Homo sapiens: one gene and its partner. The protein of the gene in region 1 purifies or fractionates together with the protein of each later gene. This does not show direct contact. Each region holds a gene or a part of one and is shown in the gene's direction. Other genes may lie near its edges. The genes, in order: NSUN3 and ZNG1B.

The links.
Region 2: the proteins of NSUN3 (region 1) and ZNG1B purify together in Homo sapiens (affinity purification with mass spectrometry; one large-scale study listed by BioGRID and IntAct). This does not show direct contact.

The regions. Positions count from the first base shown.
Region 1 is NC_000003.12:94,129,061-94,132,660, forward strand, and holds the end of NSUN3 (tRNA (cytosine(34)-C(5))-methyltransferase, mitochondrial), read left to right. Parts: 3' UTR 1-2,772; downstream 2,773-3,600. UniProt on the Homo sapiens protein: Mitochondrial tRNA methyltransferase that mediates methylation of cytosine to 5-methylcytosine (m5C) at position 34 of mt-tRNA(Met). mt-tRNA(Met) methylation at cytosine(34) takes place at the wobble position of the anticodon and initiates the formation of 5-formylcytosine (f(5)c) at this position. mt-tRNA(Met) containing the f(5)c modification at the wobble position enables recognition of the AUA codon in addition to the AUG codon, expanding codon recognition in mitochondrial translation.
Region 2 is NC_000002.12:113,440,379-113,444,206, forward strand, and holds part of ZNG1B (zinc-regulated GTPase metalloprotein activator 1B), read left to right. Parts: intron 1-972; coding exon 973-1,059; intron 1,060-3,388; coding exon 3,389-3,485; intron 3,486-3,828. UniProt on the Homo sapiens protein: Zinc chaperone that directly transfers zinc cofactor to target metalloproteins, thereby activating them.

The DNA.
Region 1 (3,600 bases):
ATTACTTCAGCCTCTATGGAAAGCAGTTTGGAGATTTCTCAAAGAACTTTATAACAGAATTGCCATTTGAGCTAGCAATCCCATTAGTGGGTATATACCCACAGGAAAATAAATTGTCCTACAAAAAAAGACATAAACGCTTGTGTGTTCATCACAGTAATATTTACAATAGTAAAGATACGGAATCAACCTAACCGCCCATCAGCAGTTGATTGAATAAAGGAAATGTGGTACATATACCTCGTGTAATATTACACAGTGATAAAAAAGAATGAAATAATGTCTTTTGCAACAACATGGATGCAGCTGGATGCTTTTATCCTAAGCAAATTCAGGAACAGAAAACTAAATACATATTCTCACTTACAAATGGGAGCTAAATATCGAGTACACATGGACATAAAGGAACAATAGACACTGGTGACTACTAGAGTGGGGAGGGGAGGAGGGGGATGTAGGCTGAAAAACTACCTATTGGGTACTGCACTCACTACCTGGGTGACGGGATCGTCTGTACCCCAAACCTCAGCATCATCCAGTATACCCATGTAACACACCTGTTCATGTATCCCCTGAATCTAAAAAGCTGAAATTATTTTTTAATGAGAAGATAAACCATAATTATAATGAAATAGGTAATATTGAGCATTGAATATTCTATAAATTGTTTATATATGTTGTCTTTTTTTTTTTTTTTTTTTTTTTTTGAGACAGAGTCTTGCTCTGTCGCCCAGGCTGGATGGCGTGCAGTGGCATGATCTCAGCTCACTGCAACCTCTGCCTCCCGGGTTCAAGCAGTTTTCTGCCTCAGCCTCCCAAGTAACTGAGATCACAGGCACCCGCCACCATGCTTGGCTAATTTTTTTTGTATTTTTAGTAAAGATGGGGTTCCACCATCTTGGCCAGGTTGATCTTGAACTCCTGACCTTGTCATCCACCTGCCTCAGCCTCCCAAAGTGCTGGGATTACAGGCGTGAGCCACCACACCCACTGTGTATGTTGTCTTTATTGATGCTTAAAACAAACTCAGGAATAAGTATTATAACCCCCTTTTGTGAATGAGAAAACCAAAGCTCAGTTCTGTTTATAGTTTGCCAAGGCTACACTGGTAAGTAAAGGGTTCAGCCAATGTATAGACAGACTGTATAGATATATGAAGTGGGGGTGGGGGCCAAGGAGCTATTACTGCTGTTTGGAAATACTTGCCTCTTGTAGATCCAGCTTTAACATTTTTATGACATCCTAGTAATAGCAGACCCTGCACAAAGTGGATATCAGAGTTAATACTGTGAAGAGACAAAATAATGAGAATACTTTTACCAAAGATAATGAAATCTTGCATAATGTCTGCATTTTTCCATTGATTGGAGTGCATCCTTAGAAAACTGAAAATAACAAAAACCCAGGACATTTTTGGAAATTGTATGCTCTCTAGCAACTTTGCGTGAATTTTTATACAAACACTTATGAGTTATATAAAATGTTCTAAAACTAGAAAAAACATGGTCTTGTAACATGTTATTTTCTTAGATCACTGGTTTCTCAGAACATGTCTTTCTGCATGGCCTCCTCATCCCCATCCCAGGGGAGAACGTGAATGTTCCAAGGGACTTCGGCCTCTGGGGCTTCCACACTCTGGGTGTCAGGGGTACAGCTCACAGGCTTTCAGTTTGGCCACAGCTGAATGATTGAGAATTACCAGATAAATCCTCCAAATCCATTTCTCCAGAAACCTCTTCCTAGCCACACAGTGGGAGCCTTGTTTGACCTTTTTTAACCTTTCCTGGTCAGGTGCCAGGCCAGTCCTGCAAAGCCAGCAAAGTTTCATTTTCATTCAACCCTTTTTTTTTCACTTTGAATCAAATGGAATTTAGTTCCTCCCACTGTCCCCAACCCAGCTAGAGTGCAGTGGTGTCATCATGGCTCACTGCAGCCTCGACTTCCTGGGTTCAAGTTATCTTTTCGCCTCAGCCTCCTAAGTAGCCTGGACTACAGGCCCACAATACCATGCCTGGCTAATTTTTAAATTATTATTATTATTATTATTGTAGAGATGTGACCTCACCAGGCTGGTTTCAAACCCCTGGCCTCAAGTGATCCTCCCACTTCAGCCTCCCAAAGTATTGGGATTACAGGTGTGAGCCATTGTGCTCGGCCTCATATATTATTAGTTGTAAAAAAGGATGCATGTTTTCCCTCACCTTCTCTTTGGCTAATTATAAATCATTTTACTTAATATTTCATAGTTAAAGGGTAGAGCCGCGATCAAAACTGGCTCCGAGGTCCAGGCCCTTTTCCCAACACTATGCTGTCTCACAGAGTGTAGGTTGTTTGAACCCTCAAGATTATTAACTGACTTTACCCCTATTTTCCATTGTTCAGTTTCCTCCTTTTGTGTCATACCCTATTCCCAGGGGATGAAAGGATTAATCAATACTTGGGAAAAAAACAACAACCTTTGAACTGTTTCAGGCCATATTGTAAAGAAGTGTGTCTTGTGATTTTGATACCCAGAAATCTCCAGTGGAGGGTATTCTCTGCCTTCCTTTTCTTTGCAGATGCTGAGCTGAAGAATGGAAATTTGGAGCAGACTTGCAGTGTCAATTGTAAAGCAAAGAGTAATTGATATTACTTTCTGTGACACTGAGTTACTTTCAAAATAGCTTTATAAAAATTTAGGTTGCTTACCAACACATTAACTTCTCCCTGCCGTCCACACGCTGAACAGCCACTACTTTCAGAAATAGACTGAATAAATGTAATGCATTTAAATGGTTTGTACTGAATTTTTTTAAGCATCAGATATTATCTGTGGTTGGAAATCAAGGTGTCCTGCAGTTCTTTATCTTATTATGTATATTCCTATAACCTTATACTCAAGATTTCATATTACTTCCTTAGCAGTATTGTGAAAAATATTCTTTCATACAATGTGGGTAGGTAGAAAATAATAGCTACCTGCACACCTGGCTATGTGACCAAATAATCACAAATCTAATAGACCCTTATCCAAGAAGCCTTTATGCCTGGGAGATAAGCATCAGATAATCTGCATAGATGAATGCAACTCATCTGGAATACAAAGAGAAAATTAGAACCAATAGCAATAATTTTATTAGATGCCAAAAAGTCCTTTGATGCAATTGAATGAGACTACTTGTATTATGTGTTAGGTAAATTTGGCTTTGGGGACAAATAAAGCAGATAGCACAATTTATTTTCAATCCATTTATATGGTTTAAATCAATGGTTTACAATCTCCCTTTCCCTGCCTTATTGCTGCACTGGGGAGGGAAGTAAGGATGATGCCCATTTCTGATGTTACTCTTCAGGCTGACATTGAAGCTAGAAAATCACACAGATCCCATGGGTATCTGAAGAATATTCAGATGGAGATTCACAAGTTAACTAATATATGCTGATAATCTACTACTTTTGCTGAAAGCTCTAATACCATCTGTCCTGAAAACATTAAGAGTAATGTCAGAATTTGGAGTGGCTTCAGGCAAAGTCAATGGGAGAGAACCAGAAATACTATCTTGACAGAATAGTTTCTATTAATGTTATTGTGTGATAATAAAAATAAAATAAAAATTTTAA
Region 2 (3,828 bases), on another chromosome or scaffold:
TTCAGTTTTCACATCACTGCCCTGTGAAACACTCATGTTCAGGGCCTCTGTCTCAGGCTTGGACTGGTTTTAAGATTTTCCTCATTGCCCTAAGTCTCTCCCATTCTATACTTCATATTTTTGTGATGTTGAGCTTCCTAAAGTACTCTAAATATAAGCCTTCATCTCTTAAAAAGCTTTGAAAGGAATATGACCTAAAAGATATTAATACCCTAATACTCTGTAAAATCTTCCTAGTTATATACTAGAAAACTTAATGTATTTCAGAAGACATGTATAGCCTACATGTAAAAGTTTTTAGCAGCACTGTAATAGTAAAACACTGGAAACAAACCAAATGTCCAACAAAAAAAAAAGATAAAGAAATGATATAGTCATACAATTGAACTACAATACTATGCAGTTAGGATTTTCTTTTTTTCCTCTATGAATTTTAGTGTGTACGGTTCACAAGACTATTTTTTTTCTACTGGAGATTGACATATTGGGTTTTATATGCCACCTGCTGGATAAAGTTGGTATAGCTTTATGAATTTATCTTACTGAACATTCTGTCCATTGTTGACACTACCTGGCTCTATTCCCCATTTCATAAAAACTTTTATAGATTGTTTAAAGCATACTATAAGTAGCCATATAGTCAGCCTGAAGTTGCGTCTTGTTAATGTTGAAATAAAAGGTCATTATAAATAAAAGATTGTGTGTAAATTTTAGGGAAGGTTAGGCTAGGTTGAAGAAACTGTTTCAACTTGTAGGAGTGTTTGTAAATATTTATAAAATTTTATGTCTACATAAAGTATTTTGCAACAGGTTTCAAAGGATGCTTTAATCTTATCCTCTAGGATATTCTATACTAAAATAATATATGAAAAATAGCACGCAAATTCTCAAAAACGTTAGGATTCTTTATATGTTTTTTGTATCTTTAAAATTATTTTGAATTTTTTTATTTACAAAAAATATGTTTTATAGGTGCTGGGAAGACAACACTTCTGAACTATATTTTGACAGAGCAACATAGTAAAAGAGTAGCGGTCATTTTAAATGAATTTGGGGAAGGTAAGTAAAGTTCAATAAATGTCATGTTGCAAGATTTTGTGTGACTGTTTATTCCTCTGGTGAATTGCTATTCCATATTTAAAAATGAAAATGCAAGGTATTGTATTGATGTGGATAGCTTTAGAAAAGTTGGATTAATTTCTGTTAAGATTTATATGGGTTGAGATACTGAAATTAGTTTTAATAAAATTTTATTTTGTATAACTTTGGAATTCTTATTAACAGAATTAAACTACATTTTTACATGAAATAAATGACTCCAGAAGTAAAAATCTAGACATATGAAAAAACGTTTATTTTTTATTTTATTTTATTTTTTTTGAGATGGAGTCTCTCTCTGTCGCCAGGCTGGAGTGCAGTGGTGCAATCTCAGCTCACTGCCACCTCTGTCTCCTGGGTTAAAGTGATTCTCCTGCCTCAGCCTCCCGAGTAGCTGGGACTACAGGCGTGCGCCACCATGCCCAGATAATTTTTGTATTTTTAGTAGAGACAGGGTTTCACCATGTTGGCCAGGATGGTCTTGAGCTCCTGGCCTTGTGATCCACCTGCCTCGGCCTCCCAAAGTTGCTGGGATTACAGGCATGAGGCACCATGCCTGGCCAAAAAATGTTTTTTTTAGGAATTAGGAAGGCACTTTTGTATGGACTCTATTGCAACTCATGAAAAATACTTGAAAATGCTTCTGTTATTAGTTAACTTTGTTTAATGTTTATTATCTGCAATGCAGTTAAAACTCAATATTTTAAAAATAAAGGTAAACATATGGTCTTTATCCTCATGTATTTTAAGTTATCTGTGAAAATAAGTGTGCTTAACTTCTCAACTGAAATATTAAACTGTAGTCAAAAAAATAGCTCTAGACACAATACTTCTGTTATCTTTATAGAAGTTTTTCTTCATAAGTATGAATTGTAATCAAAGCTCACTTCTAGCCAAAAAACAATATCTATTAAATGATTTCTTTTAAAATGTACTATTTTTTTTCAGTTGTAAAAAGTAAAAGAGCTAGGTTTTATGAACAGGATGGGAAGCCAGTTATATTCGATTTCTGGTTTTAATAAACTAAAGAGAAAAGTGCTTTTTAGGCAAAAATCCTGAGATTTCTAATAACAGACTGTTTTTTTATCATCTTATTAAATAACCTATTGCACACTGATTACATTTATTCTTACTATTTTCTTTATTTTTTCCTGGATCATTTTCGCAATTTTATTTTTCACAGCATTCTCAATACTTTTCTTCATGTTTCCTTAATGTTCTGTATATAGTCCGAATTCTGTAGCAACCTCTTTAGAAGCTCTTTATTAATACCTAGCTGAAATATAAAAAATACGTAAGTGTAAAACTACTCGATTTTATGGGAGCTCATTTGCTTAGTGGGCTTTTAGAACTTCACCGTTTGGTATATTTCTTTATTAGAGGAAAAGTAAAACATTTAAAATAATTCTTATAGATAACAAGCATTTCAAATATAGTTTATTCTTTCTTAAGTAAGTATTGCTAGGAAAATATGTGAATTTGACTAAAAGTTTAGGTTTTTTTTTTTTTTGAGATGGAGTCTCGCTGTGTTGCCCAGGCTGGAGTGCAGTGGCACAGTCTCGGGTCACTGCAACCTCCGCCTCCCGGGTTCACGCCATTCTCCTGCCTCAGCCGCCTGAGTAGCTGGGACTACAGGCGCCCGCTACCACACCTGGCTAATTTTTTGTAATTTTAGTAGAGATGAGGTTTCATTGTGTTAGCGAGGATGGTCTCGATCTCCTGACCTCGTGATCCGCCCGCCTTGGCCTCCCTGTAAGTTTAATTTTTAAATGAGCACATGGTACACTGGCCAAAAACCTTCCTCAAGATGAACTAGGGTTTTTACTCATTGGGAATATTCAGCAGTTTGTCTAACAGAAACAATTTAGAAGAAGAATGAAAAGAAAAAGATAGATAAGGCAGTCTCTTAAGAGGTTGAAGGGCATACAAAATCCAGTATATAAAACATACTAGTCTATTTAGAAAGTTTACCCTGGACAAGAAAAAAATGCCTTCAAGATAGCTACTTTATTAAGAAATGGGGGTGGCCAAGTAAGAGGCCTAAGGAGGAAGTAGGTATGTTTATCAGTTTAGGATGTGTCTTTTTCAGGGCTTAAGTCATCTTAAATAAAAGCTAACATAATGTAGTGTACTGTAATTTAGATATCGAGGCTGCATGAATAAAATGAAAGAATATAAGTTATAAAATGCAGTTTCTGCTTTAAGATCTCCATTATTGAGTTATCCTCATCTTTGTTTTTTGTTGGCTAATGGACATAAGCTAAAGAGTGCTGTTTGTTAATTATTCTAGGAAGTGCGCTGGAGAAATCCTTAGCTGTCAGCCAAGGTGGAGAGCTCTATGAAGAGTGGCTGGAACTTAGAAACGGTTGCCTCTGCTGTTCAGTGAAGTGAGGAATGTGTTTACTGTGTACATGGTTTACTAGAAATGTTTATTGATTATATTTCCAGCTTTAATTTTCTTGAGTAATTTAACTGAATTTACACAGTTTGCTTCATTGTATTTTCAAACAAATAGAAAATAAACTTATTAGGAAGCATTTTCTTAAAGTGTTTCTTGCTGTCTTTTCTATCTGCTCTAATGTTTTGGTCCTTTTATTGAGTTTTTATTGCTTTTGATGTCAGGGCTTATTTAATCTCTAGTGCATGAAAGTCTCATATGTAAAAAATGATTATTCTGAATTTAATCTGTCATTGGTCATATTTCTAAGTGTTCAACCTTATAAAAAAAAT